Regions from separate parts of the Homo sapiens genome. Here regions 1 and 3 are each reported to be linked to region 2. Evidence: microRNA targets listed by miRTarBase, many of them from high-throughput screens and not tested one by one. Region 2 holds a microRNA gene; each other region holds the end of a gene's coding sequence.
Evidence for each region. Region 2 holds the annotated microRNA hsa-miR-6884-3p (CCCAUCACCUUUCCGUCUCCCCU, at 1,274-1,296, shown strand). A microRNA usually pairs through its seed, bases 2 to 8, with sites in the 3' UTR of a target mRNA and lowers its output. Matches are read on the target gene's strand: a 7mer-m8 pairs with bases 2 to 8, a 7mer-A1 pairs with bases 2 to 7 and ends in A, and an 8mer does both.

Region 1: miRTarBase lists ZNF784 as a target of hsa-miR-6884-3p. Seed matches in the 3' UTR shown: 8mer at 864-871.
Region 3: the mRNA of CLEC17A is a reported target of hsa-miR-6884-3p. Seed matches in the 3' UTR shown: 7mer-m8 at 2,855-2,861.

Annotation. Positions count from the first base shown.
Region 1 is chr19:55,618,404-55,622,468 of GRCh38, reverse strand. It overlaps ZNF784 (zinc finger protein 784), which reads left to right. Exons shown (of 2, transcript NM_203374.2): 2 at 1-1,728. The coding sequence ends at 718. Among named protein-coding and RNA genes, the nearest start is that of ZNF784, 4.1 kb to the left of the region's middle.
Region 2 is chr17:40,023,565-40,027,629 of GRCh38, reverse strand. MIR6884 (microRNA 6884) reads left to right here and starts at 1,221; the gene lies at 1,221-1,298. It overlaps MED24 (mediator complex subunit 24), which reads left to right. Exons shown (of 26, transcript NM_014815.4): 16 at 165-247; 17 at 596-774; 18 at 884-983; 19 at 1,299-1,474. SNORD124 (small nucleolar RNA, C/D box 124) reads left to right here; the gene lies at 1-88. RefSeq lists an enhancer at 73-983.
Region 3 is chr19:14,609,705-14,613,769 of GRCh38, reverse strand. CLEC17A (C-type lectin domain containing 17A) reads right to left here. Exons shown (of 14, transcript NM_001204118.2): 14 at 1,735-3,706. The coding sequence ends at 3,574. It also overlaps a transcript of ADGRE3 not described here. Among named protein-coding and RNA genes, the nearest start is that of SNORA104, 10 kb to the left of the region's middle.

The DNA.
Region 1 (4,065 bases), not on the chromosome of region 2:
TGGCCACTTGGCTGGGGCCGAGGGAGGCGGGCAGGGTGGGGACCCGAGCCGGTGCCACGTGTGCGGCCACAGCTGCCCGGGCCCCGCCAGCCTGCGCGCGCACTACAGCTTGCACACGGGGGAGCGGCCCTACCGCTGCGCGCTCTGCCCCCGCGCCTTCAAGGCCTTGGCGCCCCTGCTCCGGCACCAGCACCGGCACGGGGTGGAGCCGGGCACCTCTCGGAGGCCTCCGGACACAGCGGCCGTTGCAGAACAGAGGCCCGGGGTGGCCCCGGAGAGGGCGGAGGTGGTGATGGCGGCGGCGGCGGCGGGCGCAGCGGTGGGGAAGCCTTTTGCCTGCAGGTTCTGCGCCAAGCCCTTCCGCCGCTCCTCAGACATGCGAGACCACGAGCGCGTGCACACTGGCGAGCGGCCATACCATTGCGGCATCTGCGGCAAGGGCTTCACCCAGTCCTCGGTGCTTAGCGGCCACGCCCGCATCCACACTGGCGAGCGCCCGTTCCGCTGCACGCTCTGCGACCGCACCTTCAACAACTCCTCCAACTTCCGCAAGCACCAGCGCACCCACTTCCACGGGCCGGGGCCGGGGCTGGGAGACTCTGGAGGCCAGCTGGGCTCGTCGGCGGCTGAGGGGTCGGGGAGCGGGTGTGGGGTAGGGGACCCTGCGGAGGAGGGGCGGGGGGAGACCGCGAAGGTGAAGGTGGAGGCCGACCAGTAGGCTGCAGACCAGGGACATGGGTTAGTTAAGGCGGAGGTACGAGGCCGACCCGGGGAGGGGGACGGGGTGGGGAAACGGAGGCAGGGGACAGAAGAGGGGAGATTGGGGGAGAGATGACAGCTGCAGGGATGGTTGTGAGCCGCTAGTGATGGAGAGCAGAGGGAGAGGGCCAGGCTCCAGACTCCCACACGCCCACACAGCACCTCTGCCAGGCCTAGGAGAGGACAGGTGCAGCTCTTGCAGCTCTGCGGGTGTGCGGCCAAAGGCAAGGCCCACGGGCTGGATGTCACTTCCCCGACTGTCTCTTGGTTGGCTTGTCCTTGTGCAAGACCCAGCCTGTCACGACAGAGCCTGGGCACTTCAGAGGAGGAGCCAGGATCGAATGGAAGGGGGGAATTGGGGTCCACCATAGTCTTCTGCTCTGGTCCTCCACGGGTGGACCAGGATGGAGTCTCCTGCCTACCTCACTGCATTGCACTGGACCTGGGATGCCTATCCACCCTCTGGCAGAAGACACTCACCAGGTTATCTGTGAAGAGACTCTGGGATCCCATCACCTCAAAGCCAGAGGGTCCCCAAGTCACCGCTGAGAGCACTTGAGCCTCAAGGATGTAAGCCTGACCATAGGATCTTGACTCCAACAGCGGCAACCCCCACCCCCATTGTGGTCCGTCCTTAACCCATCCACTCTTCTTCGGAGGCAACTGAGAACACATAAAGCAAGCAGCTACCTAGCATCCCCCTCCTAAAGCTTTAGACTCAGAGCCCAGGGTCCCCCACAAGCCTCAAGGTAGCCTCAGGTTTCTCTAATTTCCTCCACTCCCAGTTCGAAGCAAACAGCTTACTGCCTAGTCCCCGCCAATCCCAAGGGCGGGCTGGCTGATGGCAGCATGGTGGGCTGGCCTGGGTGTGGAGTGAAAGAGTCACTGTGGTGGGGGCGAGAGGAGGACTTGGGAGCTGGAGGTGTGACACCTTCAGTTCTGTTCCTATTAAAGGACCTTCTGAAGGGCTTCTCTGTCGGTCTTGTATTCGGATTGTCCGCTTTGGGGAGTTGGGGGAGGAGGGGCCTCACCATGGTTTTGCCACCAGCAGTCAGTTGCATCATCTCTTCCTCCAAGCTTCTGTTTCCCCATCATCAGAATGGGGGGTGAGTAGGCCCCACTGTGGTTACGTGTTATGTGGTTCAGCTGTAGGAGAGGGGGGTCAGGGAAGTTTGGCAAAAGCACACTCAACATGCTTTGCATGCTTGTTGAGTGAGAGCCTCTGATTTGCACACCTTTCTGTTCACCCAGTGGGCCCCATGAGATAACTCACAGGCAACTCACAATGTGAACAGAACTCATTCCATTTTCCTCAAAGAAACCTCCATGCTTCTGATGTCATTGGCACCACCACCCAAGCTGGATACCTGGGCAGGTTTAAACCTTCTTCATCCTCATTCTTATGTCCAGTCCCTTATCAGTTTCCCTCAGTTGAGCCAGTTAATATCTTTGGAACTGGAACGTGTTTTCGGCATCACTACACTTGTAGACCAACAGTGGTCTCACACACAGACAACTGCACAGCAGTCCAGTGCCTGCATTTTTTTTTTTTTTTTTTTTTTTTTTTTTTTTTTTTTTTTTTTTTGAGATGGAGTTTTGCTCTTGTTGCCCAGGCTGGAGTCCAATGGCACAATCTCTGCTCACTGCAACCTCTGCCTCCTGGATTCAAGCACTTCTGCCTCAGCCTCCTGAGTAGCTAGGATTACAGGTGGGCGCCATCACGCTCAGTTCATTTTTGTATTTTTAGTAGAGATGGGGTTTCATCATGTTGGCCAGGCTGGTCTCAAATTCCTTACCTCAGGTGATCTACTCGCCTCGGCCTCCCAAAGTGTTGGGATTACAGGCGTGAGCCACTGCACCCGGCCACCTGCCCTCTTCATTCTCCATATGGCATCCATGCAGATCCTTGTCACCAAGACACAGCTCCTTGTGGCTTTGAGACGATTTGGAAATGTGAATGCCTACAGGAGCTGGGTGAAAATGTAAATACACGAGCAAGACGGCCAGGTTCAAGGGGAAAATATCAGCAACATGAAATAATGGCGATTGCCACCAGGTCTCAGAATTGGTATTCAACAAATTGGAGAGTGCCTCTTCAGAAGAGGGTAATGGCTGCTCAGCTCCGGAACACAGATTGGGTTGCCACATCTTCCAGTTTCTTTCAGAAGTTCCATTAGTTCACATTATGTAAAATCTTTTGATTTCCCAATGTTGGCAGTCAAGTCAAACTTTTTAAAAAATGCACAGACTAAACAAAAATGTGTTAGTGGTCATATTCGGCCTTGCAGCTGCCAGTTTCCAGCCTCTAGCCTATAAAATCACCCAAGCCCCACAGTTTGGAATTCAAGACCCTTCAGGGTTTAGCCCCCAGGAACCCAACCTCCAGCCATACTAATCTGTCTTAAATGCTCCAGAATAGCAGGGTTTAGTTCAACACACTAAACTCTCCGCCTGGAAATCTTTGCCACTTCTTTTTTTTTTTTTTTTTCTTATTTATTTATTTTTTTGAGACAGAGCCTTGCTCTGTCGCCCAGGATGGAGTGCAGTGGCATGATCTCGGCTCACTGCAAGCTCCGCCTTCTGGGTTCATGCCATTCTCCTGCCTCAGCCTCCCGTGTAGCTGGGACTACAGGCGCCTGCCACCTGCTCCCACCACCACACCCGGCTGATTTTTTGTATTTTTAGTAGAGACAGGGTTTCACCGTGTTAGCCAGGATGGTCTGGAGCTCCTGACCTCGTGATCCACCTGCCTCGGCCTCCCAAAGTGCTAGGATTACAGGCATGAGCCACCGTGCCCGGCCTCTTTGCCACTTCTTTACCTGGAAAACTCCAGTTGGTTTATGTCATCGTTCAGGGATCACCTTCTCCCCAAGAAGCTTTTCTAGCCCCCCTTCCACTCTGACAGGTGACTCCTCTGTGCTCCCTCAAGCCCTAGTGATACTTCCAAGTCCCTTACACTGTGAGGCTCCATTTCCATGTTACTGCTGAACCCTGAACCCTGGGGGCACTGGCACAACGTCTGTCTCATGCTGGGTCTTCAGCATTAGAACATGGAGCCACACAGGGTAGCTGCTCTCCCATGGGTCACACAGGACTCACCCAAGCAGCGCTCTTACCTAGTTTCATCTTCAAGTTTCTTTTTTTCCTTTTTTTTTTTTTTTTTTTTTTTTGAGATGGAATCTCGCTCTTGTCGCCTAGGCCGGAGTGCAGTGGCGCAATCTCAGCTCACTGCAACCTCCACCTCCTGGGTTCAAGTGATTCTCCTGCCTCAGCCTCCCGAGTAGCTGGGATTACAGGCACCTGCCA
Region 2 (4,065 bases):
ATGATGTTCCAGTTGAGACTCAAGAAAAGGATTCTGAGCCTCAGAGCTTTGAAGGAGCCACTTGGTCCCTGACCTTCCTAGAGGCAAATCCCGATCCCTGTCAACCCAGACACGGGCTCCCCCCTGCCCTCGTCTGGGAGCTCAGCCTTCCCGTCCTTCCACAGCCAAACCGGCCTCCGTCCGGGCCCTGCTGTTTGACATCTCCTTCCTCATGCTGTGCCATGTGGCCCAGACCTATGGTTCAGAGGTGAGAGAGGGGAGCGACCGGGACGGGGGCTCAAGGGAAGGAGGTAACCCGGAACTCTCCCCACCTCACTGCCTGCGCCCCCGCAGCCTCTCAGCCAGTTAGTTCTGTGGGCCTCAGAAACCAGGTGCCCACCCGGGCTGGAGTCCGTAGAGGCACCTTCAGCCCTATGTTCACATTGACCACTAGGTGGCAGCATTGCCCCCGTCTGGCTCCCTTAGACCAGTTCGTCCCCAGTCTTTGGGCTGGGCTGGAGCAGCAGCCTGGCGGGAAACAGTGCAGCCCCAGGTCCAGCGCTGGCAGGCGCCGCGCCCTCCCCACTCGGCTGGTGCCCCCCTTCCCCTTTCCCAGGTGATTCTGTCCGAGTCGCGCACAGGAGCTGAGGTGCCCTTCTTCGAGACCTGGATGCAGACCTGCATGCCTGAGGAGGGCAAGATCCTGAACCCTGACCACCCCTGCTTCCGCCCCGACTCCACCAAAGTGGAGTCCCTGGTGGCCCTGCTCAACAACTCCTCGGAGATGAAGCTAGTGTCAGTGGCCCGGGCGCCCACTCCAAGGGTGGCGGTGGGGGCAGGGTCAAGACCCGCTCCCTGAGCCCGTTCCTTGCTCCCCTGTGCTGACTTCTCTGCACACCCGCAGGCAGATGAAGTGGCATGAGGCCTGTCTCAGCATCTCAGCCGCCATCTTGGAAATCCTCAATGCCTGGGAGAATGGGGTCCTGGCCTTCGAGTCCATCCAGGTAGCCCCGCCTTCCCAGCAGCGTTTGCTCCCCTGAGACACAGAGCCAGCCAGTGATGACTTGTTATATTTCGTAAGGGCAAGAAGACCTTTAATCCAGGAGCTCATGTTTTGATATTGATATTTTGTGTAATCGTTGTCTTAGCTACTCCCTCTGGCCCAGGTAGCTCTGGGAAGATCAAACTTGTGGAGAGAGGTGTGGAATGTGGCCCGGGACTCCACCCGCTGCACTTAGCTGCCCGCAGAGGCTGAGAAGGTGATGTTGGCTCAAGAAAGGGAGATAGATGGTAGCCCATCACCTTTCCGTCTCCCCTAGAAAATCACTGATAACATCAAAGGGAAGGTATGCAGTCTGGCGGTGTGTGCTGTGGCTTGGCTTGTGGCCCACGTCCGGATGCTGGGGCTGGATGAGCGTGAGAAGTCGCTGCAGATGATCCGCCAGCTGGCAGGGCCACTGTTTAGTGAGAACACCCTGCAGTTCTACAATGAGAGGTCGGTAACCTGCCTTCCCTTCTCAGACCCTTCAAGTGTGTTGTGAGAAGTCAGCACATCCAATAACAAGCACCCCTCTCTTTTCTGACCTTCGCAAACACGCTACTTGATCACTCACTCACTTTCCTATTCATGCATTCACTCATCTGACTCAGCAAACATGTACTGTGTCTCTGTGGCAGAAGCGTTTATATGCCAGCACCTGCTGTGTTGTCAGAAATGCAGACCCTAAACAGGGTCTGCCCGCAGAGACTCAAGTTCTAGACAACTAGCTCCCAAAAGAACAAAGCTGTGTGACTGTCTAGGAGCTAGGAACCTGTCTGTAGATTTTACAGGCCATGCCCCACCCTCAGTTACCTCTTAGGACAGTTTCCTGCCCTGGCTCTTCAGGGGCTTGGAGGACTTCCCTGGTGACCAGTTACGTTGAGTTCATTCACCCAACCAATAAGTTGTTTGCTTTTTTTAATTGTAAAAAACACATAAGATTTGCCATCTTAGCCATGTTTAAGTGTACTGTTCAGTAGTGTTAAGTATATTCACACTGTTGTGTAACAGGTCTCCAGAACTTTCTTGCATCTCTGAAACTCCATACCCACTGAACAACAGCTTCCTATTTTCCCCTCCCTCCAGCTCCTGGTAACTACCATTTTACTTTGTGTGTCTAGGAATTTGACTACTTTATACTTTTTGTTGTTGTTGTTGTTGAGACAAGGTCTTACCCTTGCCCAGATCAGAGTGAGTCTCACTGCAACCTCAAATTCCTGGGCTCAAGTGATCCTCTCGCCTCAGCCTCCCGAGTAGCTGGGACTGCAGGCCCACAGCCGGCTAATTTTTCTAGTCTTTGTAGAGACAGGGTCTCACTATATTGCCAGGTCTTGAACTCCTGGCCTTGAGTGATCCTCTCACCGTGGTCTCCCAAAGTGCTGGGATTACAGGCGTGACCCACCGTGCCCTGCTGAATTTGACTACTTTTTAGATGCCTCATTTAACTGGAATCATACAGTCCTTGCCTTTTCGTGACTCACTGACTTCACTCAGCATGGTGTCCTCAAAGCTCATCCATGTAGTAGCACGTGACAGGAATTCCTTCCTTTTTAAGGCTGAATAATACTCTGTTGTGGGCCGGGCGTGGTGGCTCACGCCTGCAATCCTAGCACTTTGGGAGGCTGAGGTGAGTGGCTCACTTGAGGTCAGGAGTTTAAGGCCAGCCTGACCAACATGGTGAAACCTTGGCCTTACTAAAAATATAAAAATGAGCAGGGAGTGGTGGCAGGCGCCTGCAATCCCAGCTACTTGGGAGGCTGAGACAGGAGAATTGCTTGAACCCAGGAAGCGGAGGTTGCAGTGAGCCGAGATCACGCCACTGCACTCCAGCCTGGGTGAAAGAGTGAGACTCTGTCTCAAAAAACAAAACAAAAACAAAAGAAACCTCTATTGTGTGGCTATACCACATCTTGATCCCTCCTCTGTCAGTGGACACTTCAGTTGCTTCCACCTTTGGGCTATAGTGAATAGTGCTGCTGTGAACATGGGTGTTTACCAGCTAATACGTTTTGGGTGTTGCCATGTCTTTATGGCAACGTTGAGGATGTCTTTATTTATTTATTTATGTACTTATTTTTGAGACGGCGTTTCGCTCTGTCACCCAGGCTGGAGTGCTGTGGCACTATCTAGGCTCACTGCAATCTCCGCCTCCTGGGTTCAAGAGATTCTCCTGCCTCAGCCTCCCGAGTAGCCGGGATTACAGGCATGTGCCACCACACCCGGCTAATTTTTGTATTTTTGGTAGAGATGGGGTTTCACCATGTTGGCCAGGCTGGTCTCGAACTCCTGATTTCAGGTGATCTTCCCGCCTCAGCCTCCTGAAGTGCTGGGATTATAGGCATGAGCCACCGCACCGGGCCTGAGGATGTCTTAATAGGGAGAAGGGGAAGCATTGAGCTGAATGAGGTTTGGACGGTCTGGAAAAGCACATCTCGTTTTCCCCTTGCCTCCTCCTTTTTTCCTTTCTTCTCTCATTTCTCCACCACCTTCCCCCCCGCCCTACCAAGTAGGGAGCTTTTGCTCTGGTGTAACCCATTCTAAGCACCCTAAATCCTATCTGGGTAAGGGGTAGTGAGAAGTCTGTGGCTCCATTGTGCAGGTGGGAAAAGTGGCTCTAAAGGTCATAGCAACTTTCCCAGAGCCACCCTGCATTCCAGGAACAGTCAGCACTCGGCCCGGGTCTGTATTCACTTCCGAAGCCTCTTTCCATGAGAAAATTCCTGGATATACACTTCTATCTGCCCAGCTACCAGGGGCCGGGAAGAGTCCTGTGGGGCAGCCCTTGGGCCTCTCCTGGAAGGAACAGTTTACTTTGGGAGGAGGCCAGGGCTGGGCGGGGACCCCCAAGCACTCAGCCTAGGGGGAAGTGATTGTGTTTATTTATGTGGCAGGTTGGCAGGGCCCAGGCCTGGGGGATGGGGGAAGTTGGAGAATAAAAGAAAATGTGAATATCTGGCTGGAATGGCCAGGGGGAGGAAAGTCCCTCCCCAGTCCCTATTTATAGGCTTTGTGTCCTGCAGGTGAGAGACCTGCCAGGAGCAGAGCAG
Region 3 (4,065 bases), not on the chromosome of region 2:
AGGTTGCAGTGAGCCGAGATCATGCCACTGTACTCCAGCCTGGGTGACAGAGTGACACTCCATCTCAAAAAAAATTTTTTTAATAACGAAATAAAAGAACAAGTAGATTTAAAACAAATCAAAGAAACAGGAAGTGAAATCAGCTCCGACCTCTCCCACCACCTGCTCTCCTCACAGTCTCCTTGCTATAAGCACCTGTTCTCAGACAAAACAGGAAAGATTCTGCTATTGATTAAGGGAGCTTATTGATCAATAAATTGATCGCAATCCTTGTATTTTAGGAGGCTGAAGCAGGAGGATTGTTTGAGACCAGGAGTTTAAGCCCAGTCTGGGCAACAAAGCAAGACCCCTGTCTATACAAAAAAAAAAAAAAATTAAAATTAGCTGGGTGTGGTGGGGGCACACCTGTAGTTCTAGTTATACAGGAGTCTGAGGACGGAGGATTTCTTGAGCTCAGGTGTTTGAGGCTTCAGTGAGCTATGATTACAACACTGCACTCCAGCCTGGGCGACAGAGTGAGACCTTGTCTCAAAAAATAAAATAAGGCCAGGCATGGTGGCTCACGCCTGTAATCTTAGCACTTTAGGGGGCTGAGGTGGGCGGATCACTTGAGGTCAGGAGTTCGAGACCAGCCTGGCCAACATGGCAAAGCCCTGTCTCTACTAAAAATACAAAAATTAGCCAGGCATGGTGGCACGTGCCTGAAATCCCAGCTATTCAGGAGGCTGAGGCAGAAGAACCAGTTAAACCTGGAAAGCAGAGGTTGCAGTGAGCCGAGATCACGCCGCTGCACTCCAGCCTGGGCAACAGAGCAAGACTCTGTCACAAAAAAAAAAAAAATAAATTGATTGGTTTGGAGAATGTCTACCCACCCTTGGATGCAATTCAGGGATTGTCCAAAGGGAATACTATGTTGAGTTATGCCTAGCTGGGAGTAGTACCAGCCCTCTAATTGGTATTTTTTGGTTGTCACATGGCCAGGGCAGGAGGGTCGGGTGGGGGTCACTCTGGCAGTTTGTGAATGTTATGGGCCAAATTGTGCCACCCCTCCCAAATGCATATGTTTAAATTCTAATTCCCAGGACCTCCTAATATGGCTGTATTTGGAGACAGGATCTTTAAAGTGGTCGTTGTAGGCCCAGCACAGTGGCTCATGCCTGTAATCCCAGCACTTTGGGGGACCAAGGTGGGCAGATTGCTTGAGCCTAGGAGTTCAAAACCAGTCTGGGCAACATGGTGAAACCCCGTTGCTACAAAAAATACAAGAATTAACCAGGCACGGTGGTGCACACCTGTAATCCCAGCTACTCAGGAGGCTGAGGCGGGAGGATGCTTAAGCCTGGGAGGTGGAAGTTGCAGTGAGCTGAGATCACACCACTGCACTCCAGCCTGAGTGACAGAGCGAGACCCTGTCTCAAAAACAAAAGAAGAGGAGGAGGAGATTAGGACCCAGACACACAGAAGGAGAACCAGGTGAAGACACAGGGAGAAGAGGATCATCTACAAGCCAAGACAGGAGGCCTCAGAAGAAATTAACCCTGCCAACACCTTGATCTTGGACATCCAGCCTCCGGAACTGTGAGAAAATGCATTCTGTTGCTGAAGCCACCCAGTCCTTTGTTATGGCAGCCCCAGCAAACTAACACACAGTAGACAAGGAACACCCAACATAGTGGCATTTTGAGAAGCACTAACATTGCAAGAGCTAATAGCCCAGGAAAGTCCACACAGAAGTAAAGTGAATTTTTATTTTTATTTATTTATTTGAGATGGAGTCTTGCTCTGTCACCCAGGCTGGAGTGCAGTGGCACAATCTCGGCTCACTGCAACCTCCGCCTCCTGGGTTCAAGCAATTCTCGTGCCTTAGTCTCCTGAGTAGCTGGGATTACAGGCACATGCCACCACGCCCAGCTAATTTTTTTGTATTTTTAGTAGAGATAGGATTTTACCATGTTGGCCAGGCTGGTCTCGAAATCCTGACCCCAGGTGATCAGCCCACCTCAGTCTCCCAGAGTGCTGGGATTACAGGCGTGAGCCACTGTGCCTGGCAAGTAAAGTGAATTATATCATCAAAGACGTTACAACCCACAGATAGCTCAAGGGCACGTGCTGGCAGATAGGTCCATCGTTGTCCTGTGTGGATATGACCAGGTTATGGCCTGCCTGGCCACACTATGTAGGGGTCTTGCTTTTCAGCTGGTATGCCTTTCTAGAAGTTCCATGGGCCAGCCAGGTGTGAGGGTGAACGCCTGTAGTCCCAGCTACTTGGGAGGCTGAGGCAGGAGGATCACTCGAGCCCAGGAGGCAGAGGGTGCAGTAAGCTATGATTGTGCCACTGCACTCCAGCCTGGGTAGTAGAATGAAACCCTATCTCAAAAAAAAAAAAAAAAAAAAAAAAGGATAGAAGTTCCACGGGCCAAGTCTTCTGGCAAAAGTCTGATTCTGCCACTTAGCTTGTGCAAACCTCACCCAAGACATTGAGAAAGTTGCTGGTCAAAAATAATTTTGATGGTTTCTGGGTTATTTGTGCTGTTTGAGACCAGGAAGGAAGCAGTGTCTGGAGAGGACGACATGGGGTGAATATAGAAGCTCTCCTGTCTTCTCCGCTGATGTTCTGTATTTTTAGGTTTGTAATTTGCAATGATGTGGGGACTACATGAGACCAGCCCACTTAATGTATTTCTGTGCGAGGCAGATCTAGAGGTCTAGCTCAAAGGGAAATTTTTCTGTCACCACTTTCAAAGCTTTTGTTTGGAAAAAAAAAAAAAAGGAAAAGATGGGGAAAGTAAAAATAAAAATAAAAATATCGGCCAGGTACGGTGACACATGCCTGTAATCCCAGCACTTTGGGAGGCCATCACGGAAGGATTGCTTGACCCCAGGAGTTTGAGACCAGCCTCGGCAACAGAGTGAGACCTCATCTCTATAAAAATAATAATAATAATTTTGAGCCAGGCACAGTGGCTCACACCTGTAATCCTCACAATTTGGGAAGCCCAAGTAGGAGGATCCATTGAGGCAAGGAGTTTGAGACTGGCCTGGGCAACATAGTGAGACTCCCTCTCTTTAAATGCTACAAAAAATTGGCCAGGCATGGTGGTGCGCATGTGTAGTCCCAGCTACTCAGGAGGCTGAGATGGGAGGATCACCTGAGCCCAGAAGTTTGAGGCTGCAGGAAAAGGAGCCCAGTCCCAGCTCTTTGTGGTTCACAGGCGCCAGGATATTTCATCCCAGGTTCAACACCAGCCCCAGGGTCCTCAGGGCTAGTATCACTTCCCAAGAGTCATGATCAGGAACTTAGTGAAGATCCTTTCAACCCCAGAAGTGGGAGACCTCCCACCACCAAGCTCTGAGCATCCTCCCAGCTCACCATCTACTAGGGCAAGCCCAAGTCCTCACTCTAGAAACAGCCTGACTTGCACCCCTGGGAACTTGCTGCATCCAGGGTGCCAATCCTGTTTGAGGCACATCTGTGTGTCCACTCACGAAGAGGCAAGGCCGTCCACGAAAGGGCAGGAGATTCTCATCTCAAAGAGACACTCAGATATGGACCCCCAGCCTCGGCCCTGGGCTTCAACAGGAACATTTCCGCTCACAAATCCAATACGTAGTTTTGTAGCAAGAGAGATCATTCCAGGTGCCACCTTTGTTCATGGTAGCACAGTCCTCATCGTGGATGTTATTGGGTTCCTCTGGCTCCCAGAAGCTGGATGGAGGAAAAAGTGGGCAGAGGGACAGGGATCTTTAGGGTGGTGAAACTCTTCTGTATAATACTGTAATGATGAATACCTGGCACTACGCATTTGGCAAAACCCATATTAGGCCGTGTGTGGAGCCTTACACCTGTAAGCCGGGCACAGTGAGCCACCGTGCCTGGCCCTTAATCAATTTCTGGTTTTGGGGGGTTTTTTGTTTTGTTTTGTTTTGTTTTGGAGACAGAGTCTCACTCTGTCGCTGAGGCTGGAGTGCAGTGGCGTGATCTCGGCTCACTGCAACCTCTGTCTCCTGGGTTCAAGCAATTCTCCTGCCTCAGCCTCCCAAGTAGCTGGGATTACAGGTGTCCAC